2 separate regions of the Homo sapiens genome follow, and region 2 is linked to region 1. The links come from fine-mapping of genetic effects on gene expression. Tissue or cell type: cerebellum. Region 1 holds a variant in brackets; the other region holds the start of a gene. All regions are shown on one strand. Distances are from middle to middle.

Region 1 (4,000 bases):
GGCTCCATGAGGAGAGAAGACCTCTTTAAATGGCCGTTAGTCACTCTTTCCCATCTCACCTGCCATTCCTGACAATGACCATCTCTGCTCTGAACCGAAATTTCCTTCTGAAAGTCAGATCATCTGCCTCCTAGCCTCCATTTCTCTCAGGAACGCAAGCCAGCTGTTGGCCATTCCCGCTTTTCTCTGGGTACAAAGCCCTGAAGTGCTGCTCCATAAGTGCCTTCCCTGTGGAGGACCTTGGCCGTGCCCCCTCAGGCTGAGCTGCCCTATTCTCCCACCTCCCCCCAGTCCTGGCTTGGCGATGTGGAACAGACCATGAGGGTGACCCTGCGGGACCTTCTCCGGAACTGCCACCTGGCCCTCAGGAAGTTCCTCAACAAGAGGGACAAATGGGTGAAGGAGTGGGCTGGCCAGGTGAGCTGGGGTCAACAGAAGTGAGGGAACAAGGGGCTGGGCACGGTGGCTCACGCCTGTAATCCCAGCACTTTGGGAGGCCGAGGTGGGCAGATCACTTGAGGTCAGGAGTTCAAGACCAGCCTGGCCAACATGGTGAAACCCCGTCTCTACTAAAAATACAAAAAATTATCTGGTGTGGTGGTGTGCTCCTGTAGTCCCAGTTTCTCAGGAGGCCGAGGCAGAAGAATAGCTTGAACCCAGTAGGTGAAGGTTGTAGTGAGCCGAGATTGTGCCGCTGCACTCCAGCCTGGGTGACAAAGCAAGACTCTGTCTAAAAAAAGAGAAAAAAAGAAAGAAATGAAGAAATGAGGGAACGAGAAGATGGAGTTAAAAGGAGGTGGCCAGTGGAAAGACAGAATCTTGAGTCTCACACAGTGTGGTTTCTTACCCCCCTTTCTGAGCTGTGGCTCTGGTACACTCCAAGCTGGACCCTTAGCTCCTGACCTGAGGCCCATGTCCCATCCTTCAGAGCAGATTGGGTGCAGTTGGGAGAGGCACATGGTTCTTGAATTAGCTGGGACTTGGGAGCTGGGCTGTGCGTGTAGCCAAGGACAGGGCTTTGGGACGTGGCTTCTGCACATCCCCAGGTGGTGATCACTGCCAGTCAGATCCAGTGGACGGCTGATGTCACCAAGTGCCTGCTGACAGCGAAGGAGCGGGCAGACAAGAAAATCCTCAAGGTCATGAAGAAGAACCAGGTGAGAGGCTGGGCGCACTGGCTCATGCTTGTAATCCCAGCACTTTGGGAGGCAGAGGTGGTAGGAGCCCACTCGCTTGAGCCCAGGAGTTCGAGACCAGCCTGGGCAATATGGCGAAACCCCTTCTTTACCAAAAAATACAAAAATTAGCTGGTGGCACACCCAGGAGGTTGAGGCTGCAGTGAGCTAAGATCGTACCACTGCACTCCAGCCTGGGCGACAGAACAAGACTCTGTCTCAAAAAAAAAAAAAAAGAAAGAAAAGAAAAGAAAAGAAAAAAGTAGGTGGGTGCTCTGCAAGTATGGGCTAGGCCTGGAGCTAGAATTGCAGGGAGGGAGCAGTCAGAATTAGAGGTGAGC[T/A]GGTGGAAAAGGGCCAGAGCGAGGGTGCTTTATGATGGAAGTCCAGTGGGGGCAGTCCGTGGTAGAGCAGAATTACCAGGAGTTACAGCAGGTGGGGTCAGCACCGGGTTGGAAGCGGTGCTGGGTAGGGGCAAGGGTTGATCAGGCTTTGGCGGCATTGCTCTGTCTGCTCTCTTCCCTGCTGCTTCATGCCACAGGTGTCAATCCTGAATAAGTATTCAGAAGCCATCAGGGGGAACTTGACCAAGATCATGCGGCTTAAAATTGTGGCTCTGGTGACGATAGAAATTCATGCCCGGGATGTGTTGGAGAAGCTTTACAAGAGTGGCCTCATGGATGTCAATTCCTTTGACTGGCTCAGCCAACTTCGGTTCTACTGGGAGAAGGTGCCAGATGGGCCACCTCCCCACTCTCTTACCGTAAAATGGATCCTAATGCTTTTATTGCATCCATGTTCTGTAAATGCAAGGATATCCTAAGCCAACCCTTAGTCCTGTCCCACTACCCTAATCCGGTTCTTCCTTCCATCTCCTCCCCACAATCAGGAGTGGCAAGTAGTTGTCCCAGTCAGGGCTCACTATGAATGTCACTTGAACAGGACTCAGAAACACTCCAGGCAGCTGCTGCATTGGGTCGGGGTGGATGTGCAACATGAAACCCATTTTCCATCTTGCCCATAAACCGCTCCCCTTTTCAACTCTAAAAGGGAACCCCTGATCCCTTCACTGCAGCCTCCCTGACAACTCTGAGCCCCACTCTCAGTCATTGTCCCAGCTCTAACTCTCCTTCCAAGCCCACCTCTCTCTTTTTCTGCGCTGTTTTCCCCAGGATCTTGATGACTGTGTCATCCGCCAGACCAACACGCAATTTCAGTATAATTATGAGTACTTGGGTAACTCGGGCCGGCTCGTCATCACCCCCCTGACGGACAGGTCTGCCATGTGGGATGAATGAGGTGGCTGGGGTGGGGGGCAGCAGAAGCTGAGAGAGGCTTCCAGGAGTCTGACTCTAGTTCTGTCCTCAATTCTCAGGTGTTACATGACACTGACCACGGCATTGCACCTGCACCGAGGGGGCTCCCCCAAAGGCCCTGCAGGCACAGGCAAGACCGAGACCGTCAAGGACCTGGGCAAGGCCCTGGGCATATATGTCATTGTGGTCAACTGCTCTGAGGGCCTGGACTACAAGTCCATGGGCCGAATGTACTCAGGTCTGGCCCAGGTCAGTATCCTGCCACCCTGTGCCAGAAGCCCCTTAAATACCTTTTCGTCCCAGAAAATAAACTGAAACCCAAATCTGGTTCAGTGCTTTGTAGCTTCATGACATTGCATCACATGTAATTCTTATTTATTTATTTATTTATTTTTTGGAGTGCAGTGGCATGATCTCGGTTCACTGCAACCTTTGCCTGCTGGGTTCGGGCAATTCTCCTGCCTCAGCCTCCTGAGTAGCTGGGATTACAGGCGTGTGACACCAAGCCCGGAGAATTTTTGTATTTTTAGTGGAGACGGGGTTTCACCATCTTGGCCAGGCTGGTCTCGAACTCCTGACCTTAGGTGATCCACCTGTCTTGGCCTCCCAAAGTGCTGGGATTACAGGCGTGAGCCACTGCGCCCAGCCACGTATAATTCTTACAACTAGGAAAGTCCCTTCCCCTTCCTGAGCTTCATGTAGCTTATTTGCAAAATCAGAAGATTATAAAGGATTAAAGAAAATAATGTGTGTTAACTGGAGCAGAGTAGACAGTGCACACAAGTTCCCTACCCCAGTCTCTTTCCAACCCACACCTTTTCTAGCATCACCCCAGATTGGCCCCATCTGATGGAAAGTTCTGGCCAGAAGCTACAACAGTGTACTCTGGTGCCCTCCTCCCTGCCCCCTAGTCTGGAGGCCGCCTCGCCTATTGAAACATTTGAAGGAAGGGTGCGTTAATCACGCTTTCTAGCCTCTTGGGGCACCTCTCGCTCCCAGTGACTCTGCCTTGCACCCCGCAGACTGGAGCTTGGGGCTGCTTTGATGAGTTTAACCGCATCAACATCGAGGTGCTGTCAGTGGTGGCCCACCAGATCCTGTGCATCCTGTCTGCCCTGGCTGCCGGCCTCACCCATTTCCATTTTGATGGCTTTGAAATAAATCTGGTGTGGTCCTGTGGGATCTTCATTACCATGAATCCTGGTAGGTGGCAGGGAGTGGATGGGACTCCTGGGGTGGGAAGAACTGGGTGTTCAGGGGAAATAACTGCGCATCCTCCTCTTCCCCCTTCCATGCGAATGTATATAGCTAAGTGAAGTCTGGCTAAAGATAGCAAAGGGGAGAGAAGGATAAACACAACTTTCCGGGAGAAGGGGAAGCAATCTTACTGTTTTCCCCAAAGGGATTAATAACCACTTATGTGTGTATATGTAGCCCTCATCTTTTAAGATACTTAGCTTTCTTCTCCCTTTAGGCTAGCTCCAAGAGTTCTGGTCTCTCTGCCATCTCTTT
Region 2 (7,244 bases), 61 kb before region 1:
ACACATATTCCTAGAGTAACAACTGCAACAAAACAACTACAGCAAAACGACTACAGGCACAGGAAGACATTTGTTTGTTCATTGGTTTGTTCGTTCACTCGCTCAGCAGCATGTTAAATGCTACTTTGTTTCAGGCACCGGTTCAGGCGCTGGGAGGACAGGGTGAGTAAGGCCAGGTCCCCGCTTTCACAAAGTCCACATTTAGGTGGGGAACGAAATAATACAATTTCAGGTGTGAAAAGGGATATAAACAAAACAGAATGACAGGATGAGGAGGATGGAGAGTAACCAGGAGCTGCTTTATTTATTTATTAATTTATTAATTTATTTATTTTTGAGATGGAATCTTGCTCTGTTGCCCAGGCTGGAGTGCAGTGGCGCGATCTCGGCTAACTGCAACCTCCACCTCCCGGGCTCAAGCGATGATTGTCCTGCCTCAGCCTCCCAAGTAGCTAGGATTAACAGGTGCCCGCCACCTTGCCCAGCTAAGTTTTGTATTTTTAGTAGGGTCGGGGTTTCAACATGTTGGCCAGGCTGGTCTCGAACTCCTGACCTTAGGTGCTCAGCCCACCTTGGCCTCCCAAAGTGCTGGGATGACAGGCATGAGCCACCGCACCCGGCCTGGAGCTGCTTTAGATGAGGAGGTCAGGAAGGTCCCTTTGAAAGAGATGCCCTTGATCAGGACCTTAAGTCATGAGACAGGAGTAAGCCATGCACACTGGGGACGGGCATGCTAGACAGAGGAACAGCAAGTGCACGGGCACAGAGGTGAGATTGTGGTGTGTTTGGGAACAGTAAGAAGGACATCACCACCACATGCATGTTTCGGATGTGTCCTGTTCTTCCCTAGCCTCGGCCTGGAGGGGAGTAAGTCACTTAGGGTCTTGGATCCACATTAAGGAAGTTGATCTCACTCAGTCTCCCATCCCCTTGCCTTTTGTTTCTTGTGTGTCTGTGACTTGTGTTTTCCTCGTCTAAATTTTAAGCTCTGGGAGGGCAAGGATGATGCTCTGAGCTTTTTTGGGGGCTGTGGCACAGCTGCTGGCAGAGTCCAGAGCAGGAAGGCAGAGCGGAAGTAAAGGAACCGAGAGGGCTGGGACCACAGAAGCTAGAGCTGTCGCCCTGCCATCCCCAAACCGCATAGGATTGAGGCTGTCTTGGGGCTGAGCTGTAGAGTGAAGCTCAGGCTTTGCCCTCCTTCCAAATAACGGCAGCTGAGGGATACTATTCAGCCCGAGGTGCGTGTGTGTGTGCGTGTGTGTGTGTGTGTGTGTGTGTGTGTGTTGGGGGTTTTTAGGGAAAGGGGAATGGGGCAAGGAGTGGCAGTGGGAATTTCTTTTCTTTTTCTTTTCTTTTTTTTTTTTTTTGAGACAGTCTCGCTCTGTGGCCCAGGCTGGAGTGCAGTGGTGCAATTCTCGTGCCTCAGCCTCCCGAGTAGCTGGGACTACAGGCATGTGCCACCACGCCCGGCTAATTTTTTGTATTTTTAGTAGAGATGGGGTTTCACCACATTGGCCAGGCTGGTCTTGAACTCCCGACCTCAGGTGATCCACCCACCTCAGCTTCCCAAAGTGCTGGAATTACAGATGTGAGCCACTGTGCCTGGCCTTGCAGTGGGAATTTCTGATGCGGAATGGTTGACATCATATCTGGAATTTTAATTAGAATGAAAAATGGCCCTTCCTAAGGGGCTATATGGGCCACCGTGGACATGGGGCTTGGGAGAGTTTTGAGACCTGGGAGAAATGTCACACGGTGGTTTGGAGGCAGGAGGCTGTCTGGCATAGGCTCAGAGTTGGGTGGGGGAAGGAAAAGGGACACAGAATGAATGGGAATGACAACTGGGCAGCCAGAGAGCTACTTGAAAGGTAGCAGGGAAAGTGGAGTTCTGAAGGGAGTTCTGAGGGGACCAGGCCCCAGGTACCCCAATTCCCACAGGGAATCGAAGTGTTCAGTTTTCTGGTTCTCCCTCTTCCTCCAGTTGCCATCAGAAACTCAGGCACCGCAACCCCAGTGGCTGGCGGGGTGATGTCGGGGGGAGACTGAGCTGCTTCAGGGGGTAGCAGCTGGTGAGTTGGGAGGAATCTGTGTGCTCAGCAAACAGCAGCCTCAGTGCCCGGTGGCTGCCTCCTCCCTCATCAATCAGCCCCAGCCAAATGTCCTTGCATTCCCACCACCCCAAGGGGACTGGGGCTGGGCCAGGGTCCCCAGGGGAGATGGGGATGGGTGGGGGGAGGTGAAGGGGGGTGCTTGGCTTCCTTTCCCTTGGCCTCTGTTCTCTTCTGTCCTGGAAGCTCTCAGTTCTTCATGTCATGGAATGACTATCCTGGCCCCTACCATCGTGGGGGCATCAGCTACAAATCACCTGTGGGGGGCTGCTGGGGGAGAAGGATGAGTCAGGCTGTAGAGTAATCTACTCTGGTTCTCACGGGACCAGCCCAGGGCACAGCCGGCAGGGAGGCTGCTGGCATAGAGGCCCTGTCTCCCCTGGCCTCTGTCTCTGATGAATGATCCGGACAGCAGGCCGAGACCCTGACCCCTGGAATGGACCTCTCTTTCCACCTTCTCCTAGCCCCCAGTCCTCATCCCCTGCTTCCAGCCAAGATCCAGAGGTCTGGCCCCCAGCTCACCCCAAATCTGCTGTTCCCCACTAGGGACTGGGGTCTCTAGACCTTAGCCTCTGGCTCCCTTTCCCCCTCCTCAGCCTTTGCTCCCCTCCGGGACCCAGGCGTCCTGCCCACTCCCTTCACCATAACAACCATTCTTTTGGAGTTGCTTAAGACTTTAATATCATTTCATTAAGTCAGCAAGTTCAGAGAAGGTTGGGGGCACAAAGAGACTGGGGGTGGGCAAAAGAGGGCCAAAGTAGGGGGGAGGCAAGGAAAGATCCCCCACCCCCCTCTCCGTGGAGATGGCTCTGAGAAATCAAATATTGACAATGAGGGAACAGAACTTATTAAATCTGGGACAGGGATGTGTGTGGGGAGCTGTGGGAATGGCCGGATGCCTGGGTTCGGAGGGTAATGAAGGTTCTGGGAGGAGGAAAAGGGCCGTGGCTGGGAGGTGCAGCAAGGCTGAGGCTCGAGGTCACAACTCTTCTGCCCTTTCCTTTGGGATGTACACGGTCTTGCAACCCTGGCTGTTTCTCTAGCCCCGAAGAGCCCCTGGGGAAAAGACCCCCATCATAGCTAGCTGTGGTTGCCCCGCCTTCGTCCCTTCCCCCTACCTCCACCTCTGTTGATGAGCTTCAGCAGCGTTTAATCGGATTGAGCAGTAATTAGCAAAGCGAGATGTTTGATTACCTATTTAGCATAATGTGGGGGGCTGGGATCCGTAGGCACAGCCACAGTTGGGGAGGGGGGTTTAAGAAAAGAAATGGGGTCTGTGCAAAGTTCCTTTCCCCGAGGGACCCATGAACCTTGCCCCTGAGGCTCCCCACCCCACGCCTCCAGCAAATTTTCACTCCTTTGGGACTTTTCCCTAGGGGTTCTGGCCAACCACATCACCTCTGTCTGCCACCCATGGCCTATCTGGCTAGAGGAACACCTCCACGTTCCATCTTAGCTGTGCTAGCTGTGCAGCTGGTTTTGGGGTGGGCGGTACTCCTCTCCTTCCATTCCTGCTGTCAGCAACAGGAGTCTGGCTGGGCAGGAGGAATTATTGGGGGTCGGGGGGAGGGAAAGGGTTGACACTTCTGGGAATAAAGATACGGTAGGTGGGAGGGTGAGGTCAGCGCTGGGATAGGGTGTGGTTAATCCACTTGCTCTTCAGGAGTACCAGGGACTGCCACTCCTGGTAGTGCCAGGCTGGCATAATGAGATCTGTTAGGTGTGAACGCCAAACAGAAAATGGGGGAACTGAGGTGCCAGCTTCTCTTCTCCTCATCCAGCAAAGAAAATGTCATAAATTTCGCTCCTCATGGAAATGTAATCAGTGGGCTCGCTGCTGGCTTTGTCTTAATTAGGCACTATTGATGGAAACAGGGAGGGCGCCTTCCCATCCCCCCACTCGGCTTCCTCCCTGTATTTCCCAGGTCTCCCCAAAGCTCCTCCCGGCACCAGGTACAGCGGTCTTCCAGGCGCCTTCTAGCAGCCCCGGCCCGCAGCGCCCCCTGGCACCCTCGGAGATGTACCCCGGCCCTCATAGCCCTCCCCTCTCGCCTCCTCTCTCACGACGCAGCCTTTGTTCCTATGGAGAGCGAAGCCCCTCCCAGGCCCGGTCACCTTCCCCAGGGAGTCCCCGCCTCTCATCCCCCCCAAAAACCAGCGATGCCTTCGAAAGCCAATCCTCAGATTCCCAAAACTCCAGTTCCCGTCTTCCCTCCCTTTCCCCGCCCCGCGCCGCCCCCCCGCAATCCTAGACCCCAATCCGAACTAAGAAGGGGGAAGGAGCAGGAGGGCAAGGGTGCTCCAGGCCCGGTTTTTCCCCCGGATCCAGCTGCACCCACGGCTGCCTGGAAATCCTGGAACGCCTTCTACATCGCGAATATCCCTCGCCGGCCTGGCGCCCGGCGCCATCTGCTGGACCCGTTCCGGCTGGGGCGCACAGACCTGGGCGCGGGGTCGGGCGATTGGGTTCTCCCTGCCTTTTCAATGTCCTGCGGGGCGGTGGCTCACTGTCTCTCGCCCCAGCCCTTCCAGCTGGGTCCTGACACCAGGCCCCCCGCACCCTTCGGCTCGCCAGATGTGGCTACTTTCCTTTAGTCCCGGAGCCTTCAAGCCCTGGGTCCCTGAGGGGTAGACCTGGGCGGGGTGGGGCCGCGAAGCAGGGATCCAGGGCGCCTGCGCGGAGGAGGCGGGCTCCGAGGGGCCGCACACCGGCCACTCGCCCCTCCCTGCCCGGGGTTGCCATGGGGACGCGTGCAGACGCCGGCCCGAGAGGGCTGCGAGGGGCAACTTCTTAGAGTGGCCCATCGGTCGGTCTAGGGAGGGGAGGGTCAGCGTGGCAAGGTGTGTGTCGGGGGCAGAGGGAAGGAGGGAAGGAGTGCTGGGGAGAAGGGGCAGTAGTGTCGGGGTAGGAAGGGACAGTTGTTGGGGAGAAGAGGCAGTTGTGGAGGGAGAGGGAGCAAGGAATATTTGTGTGGGGGAGGGGGAGGAGAAGGGGCAGTTGTGACAGCTGGGGGGGAAGAGCCATTCTGAGGGGAAATTTGCCTGCTGGTAACCAGTTTAAGGATACCAGCTGCTGGTATAAATACTGCTGGATAAATACTGCTGGATTTATACTGCAGGATAAATACTGCTGGCCCCTGCGGTATTTCCTAGTACTAGAGTGAGCCCCGACTTAGCAGAGCAGTTCCTCCTGGGGCCTGCGGTGTGGGATCGCGTGGTGAACCCCACGGTGCATGCGCCTCAGGCTCTAGTTTGAGGCAGGAAAGCGCAGCTTGATGCTTCTCTGGAGACTGATGGAGGAAGCCTCCTTGCTGTAGTTGGTTTTATTGATTTGCTGGCCTAACAGAACGTTTTTCCTTGGAGCAAAGTACAAATCCTTCAAGTTTGAAATTCATAACCTGAGATCAATGCCTGTGGCAGCCTGTGGGGATGAGGAAGGAGAGCCACAGGTGCCGTTAGGCTGCAGCCTAATGAAAAGAGAGTGCCCAGCGCCTCAGACTTTGCGCCTGGGATTCTGAGCACCTGTCCGAGATCCCCGCTTCCTGCCATCCTACCTTTCTGAGAGAGGCACCACTGTGACCTTCCTCGTGCCCCAATTGCTTTTTCCTCATGACACAATTTGAAATTTATGATTGGATGACTTTTGTCCTTCTTTCTTCCAATCTGTTCTCAGGGCATTTTGAGTCAAATAAATGATCCTGACTGATCTTAACCATTAGCACAGAGTTCCTCAGCCAACTCTGCTAAGAGACCTCAGTACACACAAAACAGTGTTCCTGCCCCTCAGGACTTCAAAGCGATAGACCCAGGTGGCAAATACTGTTTTTCTCTGTTTACAGATGTTGCAGATTTTAGTGGGATTGGGAGGAGCATATTTCCATTTAACTTGGGAGGAAAAGAGGTACATAGGAAAATCATCTTGGTTTGCTTGAATGATTGAACAGTGACAAAGGATGGGGGATGTGCACCCCTTCCTTGATCCTCTCTCACTCACTCATGGTCCTGGAGGGTAGAGTGGATGAGGGTTTGGGCAACCACACTTCAGCTTGATAGATCTTTTCCTGATTATCTTATGTTCTCATACCCCGGGGCAGAGATAGAGGTTCTAAATCCTCATTAGTGGGGTGTCTGGCCATCTTTTTTTTTTTTTTTTTTGAGATAGAGTCTCACTCTGTCAGCCAGGCTGGAGTATAGTAGCATGATCTTGGCTCACTGCAGCCTCTACCTCTCGGGTTCAAGAGATTCTCCTGCCTCAGCCTCCCGAGTAGCTGGAATTACAGGCACGCACCACCACTCCTGGCTAATTTTTTGTATTTTTAGTAGAGACGGGGTTTTGCCATGTTGGCCAGGCTGGTCTCGAACTCCTGACCTCAGGTGATCCACCCGGCTCGGCCTCCCAAAATGCTGGGATTACAAGCATGAGCCACCGCACCCAGCCTGGCCATCATCTTTAACTCCCATTTGTTCCTAGTGCCTTGAGGGACTGACTTTGATTTTTAGCCCAGTGCCCCGAAGACAGTAGGATATCCTAGGGAAAAACAGCAAGGCCTCCCAGGCCCCTGTGGAGTACAGAGCCCTTGTGGTTAATGGAGCAGGGTGTGGGTACCACCAGAAAAGATGATCATATTGAGTTTCAGTCAATTTATGAATTCAAAAGGGACTGCTTGTATCAGGGGGCTGGTTCAGGGGTGGTATCTGCTTGTAGACTCTCCACTCCTGTATACCTGTAGGTTTTGCCTGCACGATGTCCAGCAAAGCTGAGAAGAAGCAGCGATTGAGTGGCCGAGGAAGCTCCCAGGCAAGCTGGTCAGGGCGGGCCACTCGGGCTGCTGTGGCCACACAGGAGCAGGGGAATGCCCCGGCTGTCAGTGAGCCAGAGCTGCAGGCTGAGCTCCCCAAGGAGGAGCCTGGTGGGTACTTGCTGGGGCAGAGGATGCTTAGCAATGGAGGGTGGGGAAAGTCAGAGGGGCTTGGAGGCATTTTAGGGCTGGGGAGCAGGCGCTGTTGCTTCTGGGCAGGAAACGGGCTAAGTGACGCCCCCAGCCATGGAGGTTCAGCAGCCCTGCCACTGAGTCCTTTTTTTGTATGTCTTCCTCCTGGCCAGCCTCATCCTTGTTCTTTCTGTCTTAAAATTTC

The links. PIP is the estimated chance that this variant, and not a neighbour inherited with it, causes the effect.
Region 2: it holds the start of DNAH2, and the variant in region 1 is fine-mapped to the expression of DNAH2 in cerebellum (GTEx, PIP above 0.99).

What each region holds. Positions count from the first base shown.
Region 1 is chr17:7,775,733-7,779,732 of GRCh38, forward strand. It overlaps DNAH2 (dynein axonemal heavy chain 2), which reads left to right. Exons shown (of 86, transcript NM_020877.5): 31 at 292-417; 32 at 1,047-1,157; 33 at 1,714-1,902; 34 at 2,345-2,448; 35 at 2,548-2,737; 36 at 3,511-3,691. Among named protein-coding and RNA genes, the nearest start is that of KDM6B, 56 kb to the right of the region's middle. The variant T/A (reference allele first, on the strand shown) is at 1,517.
Region 2 is chr17:7,712,883-7,720,126 of GRCh38, forward strand. DNAH2 (dynein axonemal heavy chain 2) reads left to right here and starts at 4,862. Exons shown (of 86, transcript NM_020877.5): 1 at 4,862-5,917; 2 at 6,839-7,018. The coding sequence starts at 6,853.